2 separate regions of the Homo sapiens genome follow, and region 2 is linked to region 1. The links come from fine-mapping of genetic effects on plasma protein levels. A gene starts in region 1. The other region holds a variant in brackets. All regions are shown on one strand. Distances are from middle to middle. Region 1 holds the start of BST1 (bone marrow stromal cell antigen 1). Region 2 has its middle 36 kb from the start of CD38.

The links. PIP is the chance, under the fine-mapping model, that this variant and not a neighbour inherited with it causes the effect. Sun 2018 read protein levels with aptamers (SomaScan).
Region 2: its variant is fine-mapped to the plasma level of the BST1 protein (Sun 2018, PIP 0.95).

What each region holds. Positions count from the first base shown.
Region 1 is chr4:15,699,967-15,705,339 of GRCh38, forward strand. It overlaps BST1 (bone marrow stromal cell antigen 1), which reads left to right and starts at 3,099. Exons shown (of 9, transcript NM_004334.3): 1 at 3,099-3,366. The coding sequence starts at 3,179. RefSeq lists a silencer at 3,038-3,117.
Region 2 is chr4:15,739,517-15,744,889 of GRCh38, forward strand. It overlaps a transcript of BST1 not described here and the pseudogene PFDN1P2. Among named protein-coding and RNA genes, the nearest start is that of CD38, 36 kb to the right of the region's middle. The variant C/G (reference allele first, on the strand shown) is at 2,240.

The sequences.
Region 1 (5,373 bases):
ACTTCAACATTAGCCCAAAAGTCCACAGTTCAAAGTTTCATCTGAGACAAGGCAAATGCCTTCTGCCTATGAGCCTGTAATATCAAAAGCAAGCTAGTTACTTTCTAGATAATGATTACCTCCAGGGTAAACAAGAGGTTTACAACAAATAAAATGTCATAATGTCCCAAACAGAATAATGTCCCAAACAGAAACATCAAGAAATAGCATATAGGTATTGTATTAGTCTGTTCTTGCATTGCTATAGATACCTGAAACTGCTCATTTATAAGAAAAAGAGGTTGAATTGGCTCACAGTTCTGCAGGCTGTAGGAAGCATAGTGGCTTCTGCATCTGGAGAGGCTTCAGGAAGTTTCCAAATGTGGTGGAAGGCAAAGGGGGAGCAATGGGTCTTACACGGTGGCAGCAGGGAGCAAGAGAGAGGGAGGAGGTGCTACACACTTCTTTTTTTTTTTTTTTTGAGACAGAGTCTCACTCTGTCACCAGGCTGGAGTGCAGTGGTGAGATCTCAGCTCACTGCAACCTCCGCCTCCCAGGTTCAAGCGATTCTTCTGCCTCAGCCTCCCGAAGAGCTGGGACTACAGGTGCGTGCCACCACGCCCAGCTAATTTTTGTATTTTTAGTATAGATGGGGTTTCACCATGTTGGCCAGGATGGTCTCGATCCGTGATTCCCAACACACCCCCCACACCAGCCTCCCAAACTGCTGTGATTACAGGTGTGAGCCACGGCGCCCTGCCAGTGCTACACAGTTTAAAACAACCAGATCTCACTTACTATCATGAGAATAGCAACAAGGGGATGGTGCTAGACTATTCTTGAGAAACCCACACCCATGATAAAATCACCTCCCACCAGGCCCCACCTCCAACGTTGGGGATTACAATTTCACATTAGATTTGGTGGGACGAGCCATGCCAGGGATGCCCCAAAATTACTAAACTAAAGGGAAAAGTCAGGCTGGGAACTGCTCAGGGCAAACTTGCCTCCCATTCTATTCAAAGTCATTCAGCTGCTCACTGAGATATATGCATATTCTGATGGCCTTCTTTGGAAAGGCTTATCAGAAACTCAAAAGAAGGCAACCATTTGTCTCTCACCTACCTGAGACCTGGAAGCCCCCTCCGTGCTTCGAGTTGTCCCCGCCTCTCTGGACAGAACCAATGTACTTCTTACATATATTGATTGATATCTCATGTCTCCCTAAAATGTATAAAACCAAGCTGTGCCCTGACCACCTTGGGTACATGTCGTCAGGACTTCCTGAGGTTGTGTCATGGACACGTGTCCTCAACCTTGCTAAAATAAACTTTCTAAATTAATTGAGACCTGTCTCAAAATTTGCGGGTTCACACATGTTATTTAGAAATATGGAAGTAAACACAGGAACAAAACTTGAAAGAATTAAAAATGCTTTCCTCTGGAAAGTGGATTTAACTTAAGGAGGAACTGAACAGGAGAATGCGGGTTTTGGTTACAGAAAAAAAGAGATTCAAATAAAACAGTAGAGAACACCTGTTCTGTCCTCCCTTGTGTTTATCAAGTGCTTGCCAGGCACTCAAAGTTCATTGCTGTCATTATTGTAAGAATTGAGGACTTGGGCCTCCACGTGGTATTCTATTAATACTGGCTCTTTTTTTTTTTTTTTTTGAGACGGAGTCTCACTCTGTTGCCCAGACTGGAGTGCAGTGGCCCGATCTCGGCTCACTGCGAGCTCTGCCTCCTGGGTTCACGCCGTTTTCCCGCCTCAGCCTCCCGAGTAGCTGGGACAACAGGCGCCCGCCACCGCGCCTGGCTAATCTTTTGTATTTTTAGTAGAGACGGGGTTTCACCGTGTTAGCAAGGATGGTCTCGATCTCTTGACCTCGTGATCCACCCGCCTCGGCCTCCCAAAGTGCTGGGATTACAGGTGTGAGCCACCGCGCCCGGCCAATCCTGGCTCTCTTAAACTGAACATCTCCAGGATTTTGCATCTATCAGGAAGGGATATTGTGACCTCTGACAAGTTACAGTCGGCGGTAGGTATCCATGGAGAATTGGTTCCAGGAACCTCCTGGATACCAAAATCCACAGATGCTCAAGGCCCTTATATTAAATGGTGTAGTATACAGTATTTGCACATCCTCTTCTATAATTCACGTCATCTCCAGATTCCTTGTAATATCAAGTACTATGTAATTGTTACATAAGTAGTTGTTACATTGGATTATTTAGGGAATGATGACAAGGAAAAAAAAGTCCGTACATGTTCCGTACAGATGCAAGCATTCTTTTTTTCCTCAAATGTTTCTCATCCGTGGTTAGCTGAATTTGGATGATGAATCCGCAAATCTGGAGGGCCGAACATGCTTAACTTCCCTGAGTTTATCCATTGCTAAAGCGAGAGAAATTACAAACTTAGCTAGGAAGGGTGTTGCGGAAAGTAATTAATATTATACTTGCAAAGTGCTTGGCACGTTGTTGTGGTTATTATTTCCTGAAAACAAACAAACACCACTTATTGGTTGGTGTGAAAGAGGGCATCTGTCAAAGTTGTCGTCCTTTGGAGCCAGAAAAGTATTTCTTCTGATGATGACTGACCTCTCCTCACCTCTCCTTCAACCTTGCGGCTTCTTTGGGGCTCCCTCCCCGTGGACAGCGGTCAAGATTAGCCTGGGCCACAGTGCACTGGTCCTGTCCTGGGTGATGTTCCAAGCTCACTCTTTTTTAATTTTATTTATTTATTAATTTTTTTTTTAGACAGAGTCTCACTCTGTCGCCCAGGGCTGGAGTGCAGTGGTGCAATCACTGCTCGCTGCAGCCTCGATCCCCTGGGGTCAAGCCTCCTCACATCTCACCTCGCAGGTAGCTGAGACTACAGATGCGCACCACCAGGACCAGCTAAGTTTTGTATTTTTTTGTAGAGAGGAGGTTTCTCACCTGTATGTTACTCAGGTTTGTCTCGAACTCCTATACTCAAGCGATCCGCCCGTCTAGGCCTCTCAAAGTGCTGGGATTACAGGCATGAGCCGCCGCGCCCCGCCCCACGCTCAGTCTTGAAATTGTCTGGAACGGGAAACGGCAAACAGCGAGATATCCGAGCGAGAGTCCCGCCCTGCATCAGTTTGCGGAACCGCCTTGGTAGAAGGAGAGAAGGGGAGTGGAGGAAGCACGGGACTGGAGGGACCAAAGTTCCCCGATGGCGGCCCAGGGGTGCGCGGCATCGCGGCTGCTCCAGCTGCTGCTGCAGCTTCTGCTTCTACTGTTGCTGCTGGCGGCGGGCGGGGCGCGCGCGCGGTGGCGCGGGGAGGGCACCAGCGCACACTTGCGGGACATCTTCCTGGGCCGCTGCGCCGAGTACCGCGCACTGCTGAGTCCCGAGCAGCGGTGAGGCAGTCGGCCGGGTGGAAGGGGAGCCGGAAAGAGGCAACGGTGGGGAGGGCCTGGGGAGGGGAAAACTGGCGCTAAAGTTCGGGGTGAGGGGGCAATGAGAGAGGCCTTGAGGGGAGAGGTGAGTGTGGAGACAGCGATGGTCCTGAACGATGGGGGCGAGTGAGGAGGGGGCTGTGAAGTGTGTCTGCAGGTGAGGGGTGCGCTGTGCGGGGTCTAGAGATGAGTGTGTGTGTGTGCGCGCACACACACACTGTAGAGGTGAGGGGTGTGTGCGTGTGTTCTAGAGGTGAGGGGGGTGTGTGTGTGCGCGCGCTCTAGAGGTGGGAGGTGTGTGTGTGCTCTAGAGGTGGATGTGTGTGTGTGTGCTCTAGAGGTGGGGGTGTGTGTGTGTGTGTGTGCTCTAGAGGTGAGGGGTGTGTGTGTGTGTTCTAAAGGTGAGATGTGTGTGTGTGTTCTAGAGGTAAGGGGTGTGTGTGTTCCAGAGGTGAGGTGTCTGTATGTGTGTTCTAGAGGTGAGGGGTGTGTGCATGTGTGTTCTAGAGGTGAAGGGGGTGTGTGTGCGTGCGCTCTAGAGGTGAGGGGTGTGTGTATTCTAGAGGTGAGGGGTGTGTGTGTTCTAGAAGTGAGGGGTGTGTGTGTTCTGGAGGTGAGATGTGTGTGTGTGTGTTCTAGAGGTGAGGGGTGCGTGCATGTGTTCTAGAGGTGTGTGTGTATCTGTGTTCTAGAGGTGAGGGGTGTGTGTGTGTAGTCTAGAGGTGACAGGTGTGTGTGTGTGGTCTATAGGTGAGGGATGTGTGTGTGGTCTAGAGGTGAGGGATGTGTGTGTGGTCTAGAGGTGAGGGGTGTGTGTGTTCTAGAGGTGAGGGGGTGTATGTGTATTCTAGAGCTGAGGAGAGTGTGTGTTCTAGAGATGAGGTGTGTATGTGTGTTCTAGAGGTGAGGGGTGTGTGTGTGTTCTGGAGTTGAGGGGTGTGTGTTCTAGAGGTGAGATGTGTGTGTTCTAGAGATGATGGGTGTGTGTGTTCTAGAAGTGAGAGGTGTGTGTGTTCTAGAGGTAAGGGATGTGTGTGTGTGTGTGTTCTAGAGGTGAGTTGTGTGTGTGTTCTAGAGGTGAGATGTGTGTGTGTTTGTTCTAGAGGTGAGGGGTGTGTGTGTGTAGTCTAGAGGTGACAGGTGTGTGTGTGTGGTCTATAGGTGAGGGATGTGTGTGTGGTCTAGAGGTGAGGGATGTGTGTGTGGTCTAGAGGTGAGAGGTGTGTGTGAGTGTGAAGGAGGGTGGAGAGGTATCCCTCTAGAAGTGAGGGTGGGGTAGAGGTGAACTGGGTAACAGCCCATTGCCACCCAGCAGATGTTTAGTCTGAATACTCAGAACCCAGAATGTGATCTCAGGTTGGAATTCCTTGAGTCCAGTCCTTCCAGAATTCAAATTTCAGATCCCCTAAATCTGGAGGATTTCTGAAGTTTGGGTCTTTCTTGCCAGTGCTGCATTTCTTACTGATTTTTGTTCCTTCTGTGGCCCCCCTTTTCTTATGTTTGTGATGTCTTTCTTGTGCTGATCATTTTTATTGTCGCACATTTCAGGCAAATAAGAAACAGCAGAGAACCACCTGTGTTACACACCACCCAGTATGAGAAACAAAGTTACAAATGCTATGGGAAATATTTTTTGAAAACTAGCATGGACCTCAAGAGGGGCTTGCACTGGAGGGTGCACCTGCTTTGCCAGAGGTGGAAGCCTTTTGCAGCATTGGGCCTCCCTCCTAACACTACACATCCTGCTGGCTGGCCTGGCCTCACCTGGTCCCCGAGCTCCACACTGGAACTGGACTATGAGACTGGCCCCACCGTTAGGTCTAAATGAAGAGGCACCTGCTGTATAGTTGACTGAATTTGTCACCTCCTGCTCGGTGCCATTTCTGCTTGTCTCCGTGAGCCTGGGGCAAGGCTGTATTCCTTAGCTCTGAGAAATCTGTGCAGTGCCTTCAGAGAGACAATTCCAGT
Region 2 (5,373 bases), 40 kb after region 1:
TACTTATTTGAGAAAAATGCATGTTAAGAAGCCAAACCGTGTGTGTGTGTGTGTGTGTGTGTGTGTGTGTGTGTGTGTATTTCTCCCCTGCACAAAAGTAGAAGGGTTTTCATTTGACTTGTGCCAGCTGCACCTTCATGACTTTGCTATAGGACATGTGACACAGTAACTCTAAGATGGTGCTTGTAAAATTTTAAAATAGTTAACATACAGTGACAAGCTCTCAGGGGAACACATTAAACTCGATTAAATTTTGTAGGGTAAAAAGATGTGTACAGAAATATAATCAGAGTGAAGTCATTGTTCACCATTGCTGCTAGTAATAAAATTTGGTGGTAGGAGGGGGAAGGAGAAAGGGAGGGAGGGAAGTCGGTGAGAGAGAGAAAAGGAGAGGGAGACATTGACAGAGAGAGAGACAGACAGACAGAGAAACAGAGAGAGACAGAGAAAGAGAGGGAAGAAGGGAGAGAGAGAGAGATAAGGATAGAGAGAGACAGGGAGAGAGTGTATCTCCTGATCCTCACTGGCTGATAACTAAATTAGTTGGGGGCAGGGGGGACTGAATCTCGTTCTGTCACCGAGGCTGGAGTGCAGTGGCACCGTCTCGTCTCACTGCAACGTCTGCCTCCCAGGTTCAAGTGATTCTCATGCCTCGGCCTCCCTAGCAGCTGGGACTACAGGCACACGCCACTATGCCTGGCTAATTTTTTGTATTCTTTTTGCTAGAGACGGGGTTTTGCCATGTTGACCAGGCTGGTCTCAAACTTCTAACCACAGTGATCTGCCCGCCTTGGGTTCCCAAAGTGCTAGGATTATAGGCATGAGCCACCATGTCGGGCCTAAATTAGTAGTTATTATCTACTTTCATTTGTGGGATGAAGATGAAACAGAGTCCTTTGGGATTGTGCACTGGGGGAAACCTAACATAGTCTAGTATCGGGAGAGGAGGCTTTCCAGAGAAAGTCTTCCTTAAGTTGAACCTGAAAAAACGAGAGCTATTAGCCAGATGAGAGGTGAAGGTGTGAGGGGGTGGATTGGAAATATTTTCAGGTAGGGAGACTAATCTATACAAAGGTTTATGTTCTCAACTACTGAGTTTGTCTTCAGCATTTGCACCTTATTTAACAAATTTATTAATTTGTTAAATTATAACAAATATTTGACAGCAGAGCTGAGGATATTAAAATAAAATGTAATTTTATTTCTTATATGTTGGTGAAGAAGGAGCAGCAACAGAGGCTGGAGCATTATTTACAAGCCAAACTATCCGTCTGGAGATTCCCAGTGCAGCAACTGGGACGGGGACTACTGAATCCCTCAGATTTTAGGCCATAGGCCAATGAACATTTTCTGTAAAAGGTGAAGTAATACTTTTAGCTTTGCTGGCCATGCAACCTCTGTCGCAACTACTCAACTCCGTGGTTCGTGAGGGGTCCACAGGGTTCATTATCCGTCATGAACCGCAGAGTTGAGTAGTTGTGACAGAGGTTGCATATATTTACTCAGCCAATATTTACTGATGATATTGATTAGGAGTCTTGGGAAGAGCAGTGACAGTTTTTTTGGTATTATATCTAGCGACAAAAGATTGAATTTGGCCGTTACTCACTCCTCCTCCAACAAAGTTGTCAAACGGGGCTGCTACAGACAAGTAGAATCACAGATTGGAGATCAGCTGTCATTATGTAACAGCTGGATTGGCAGGCTTCCCTCTAGGGGCCATCCCTGTCTACAGCTAGAGTGGACAGGCCAGGGAGGACACCATACTTGGAGTAGAGTAACCTTGTCCAGGAGTAAAACATGGCCCGAGAATTCTGTGCTCCTAGCAATCCTATTATTATAGAAGTGCTTCCTGATAAGGGAGGAAGGGTAGGAAGAGGAAAGCTGAGGCAGATGGATGGGGAAAGTACTGAAACATTCTGTTCACATCCTCAATAACCTTCATGAAAAATCAGTCATAGATGCTGGAATCTCCAAACCTCCAAGGGGCTTACAACATTGTGTGCAGGGAAACCTCTAATTCACAGCCTTATTGAGAGCATGTGTCAATGGCCCATAGCAGGGGCCCATTCTGGCTTTTGTACAACCCCAAAGACACACGTGGGTTTTCCATTTTTAAATGGTTGAAAAAAATCAAAAGAAGAACATTATTTCATGGCGTCTGAAAACTACATGAAGCTCAAATTTTAGTGTATAAAGTTTTACTGGAACTCAGCCATGCTCATTAGTTTGTGCTTAT[C/G]TATTCCGCTTCTGAGCTATTGCAGAGTTGAGCAGTGGCAACAGAGGTTGCATGGCCCGCAAAGCGAAAAGTATTATCTCACCTTTTACAGTAAATGTTCATTGGCTTATGGCCTAAAGTCTGAGGGATTCAGTAGTCCCTGTCCCAGTTGCTGCTCTGGGAATCTCCAGATGCATAATATGGTTGGTGCATAACGCCCCGGTCTCTGTTGCTGCTGCCTCCTTCACCAACATACAGTACAAACAAATAAAACTCCATTTTATTTTAACATGCTCAGCTCTGCTGCCAAAGCTGTGACAAGCCCAGAAGCAGTTTTTCAGGGTTTGAGATGGAGAAGAAGGTGGTCTCTTCTCTTGCTCATCAAGGAATCCTCTTTATTATTTAAGCCAGATTAAGTTTGCTATGGTTTGAATGTTTGTCCCTCCAAACTTCATGCTGAGATTTGATCCTCAATGTGGCAATGTTCAGAGGTGGGGTCTACTGGGAGGTGTTTGGGTCATGGGGGTCAACCCCTCATGAATTAATTACTGTGCTCCCTTGGGGATGGGTGTGTGAGTTCTCACTGTCTTAGTTCCCTTGAGAGCTGGCTGTTAAAAAGAGCCTGGCACCTGTCTCCCTCCCTCCTTGGCTTCCCCTACTGCCATGTGATCTCTTTGCATACTTTGGCTCCCCTTCCACTTCCACCATGAGTCGAAGCAGCCTGAGGCCCTCACCAGATACAGATGCCTAATCTTGAACTTTCCAGCCACCAGAATTTTAAGCCAAATAAACCTCTTTTCTTTATAAACTGCTCAGGCTCAGGTATTCTGTTACAGCAACACTAAATAGACAAAGACAAAGTTGTTGACTGACTTTGAATTTCTTTAGAAGCAGACCTGTGACAGAGGATAAGTCCAGGGAGTTCATTTGGGAGGTAATAAACTACCTGAAGGTACAGGAAACACTGATGAAGAAGTGGGAATTGAGTTAGGGATGGCAGGAAGCCAATACAGTGTTATCAGGCTGTTATCACTGAAGGAAACTGGGGTTGAAGCCTGCTGGGGAACTAAGGCATACAGTGCAGAATGCACCTCGAACTGATTGTATCTGAGACAGAAGGAGGTTGAGATATTTATCTACTTGTCAGTCATGGGTTCAGGACTGCTCCCAGGAGGACATTGGGCCTGCCCTGAGATGGCAACTGGCACCAGCTGCAGCAGAGATGGGATGGAAAGAAAACAAATTAATATGAAGTTTCAGATGAGCCACTTATTTACAAGGAGGACAGTTTTGAAATTAATTTTTCCTTATACTTTAAGGTACAGTGAAAGGATGCATAAACAGACCTTTTTGAAGTATGTGAAAATCATGAACCCACTTTCAGTTTGTTGCACCAACTTCCACAAATTACAATGTCAGAGGAAACATCAAAATTCCCTTGCATAATTTTACATTTAAAATAAAATTCAGACACCAAGATGGTAACCCCCATGGATCTTCACAGAGCTTCAAGACAAAGTTTTTGACACTCAACAGAAGGTGAAGCTTACAGACATACCGACCAAACAGCTAAACAGAACAAAAAAGCATGCACATCTTACAGATGCAGAGATCATGACTTCGGTGGATGAGACTAATCTGTATGAAGCTGTAGGATATATGTATGAAGATGAAGAATGTTTATTCTTCAATCCAAGGAGGCAGTTCACAATAAACTGTTAGAAAGTCAGAAAATAGCAGAAGAAAAAAAAATTAAAGAACTAAAACAGAAAAAAATCCTACCTAGAGCAGAATGTTAAGGAAGCTGAGGGCAACATCTGGGAGATGCTGATGGCACAAAGGGCCCAGCTGGGAGCCTCTGCGGGAAGCTCTTCCTCCTGCCCCTCCTATTTCTGGCAAGGGCAGAGTGGTCTGTGCAGGGAAACAGTCTGTCTTCTGCCCTAATGGATGTTTTATCTGGATGGCCTAGCAATCTCACATGTTGAGCCCCTCTTGTATCCCAACTCTGAGATTTTTACCCTGGCTTTGCCTCCCCTGCTCAGGACACTCTTTTCTGTTGGTGTGAGTCATGAGCTCCCAGGAAAGGGAAGATGGGAGCCAGGACTGATAGGAGGCTCTGTCTGAGCCTTCCATTAGGGACGCTGGTCAGACCAGTAAACAGCATCTGTCCCACTCTGCTACATCTGCCTTTCTTGAGCCAAGGGATGGGAATGGAGGGTGAGAGAGGCAGTGGCTATCTCCATCACAGCTCCTGCTCCCTCTGCATTAGAGTCTTTCTTTCCTTGGGGGATGGGATCTTGTCCTCTTATCTTTTCCTTTTCTGGACATTTGACTAATCCCTTCACCTTCTGGGCCTCTGTGTAGTATACAGATGAGGAAGAAAGAAGACTTACACCGAAAGCTGAATTTAAGTGAAAAGAATAGTGGTTCCTTTATGGCAGTCTGCCTACAGATTCCTTTCCCTGCTTTCTCCCATACCTTCTGTATTAGTCCATTGGCACACTGCTATAAAGAGCAGCTCGAGACTGGGTAATTTTTAAAGGAAAGAGGTTTAATTGACTCAGGGTCCCACGTGGTTGGGGAGGCCTCAGGAAACTTACAAATCACGGTGGAAGGCAAAGGGGAAGCAAGGCACCTTCTTCACAAGGTGGCAGGAAAGGGAATGACACAGGAGGAACTACCAAACACTTATAAAACCATCAGATCTTGTGAGAACTCACTCACCATCAGGAGAACAGCATGGGGGAAACCGCCCCCATAATCCAATCACCTCCACCTGGTGTCTCTTCCTTGACACATGGGATTATGGGGATTACAATTTAAGATGAGATTTTGGGTGGAGACACAGACAAACCATATCACATTCCAAAAGAAAGTTCAACAATAAGCAGCACTTCCAAGACTTTCTCCCTTTGGCCAATATCATAAGATGGACACTGTAATCGTGAGGCTTAGGGGCAGAGGAGTGCTGGAGCTGGCCTATACCCACTCAGGAGGGCTGATTGTTCAATTTTCATGAATTTTGTTGCAAGCCACTTGTTAAAAACAGCCATTACAAAAATTATCTAAATTTGAAAATCGTGTTAGAAACAAGGATAATGAATGTTCAAAGCTCAAATAAAAATTCAGACTTATACAGAACTGATATGAAGAGT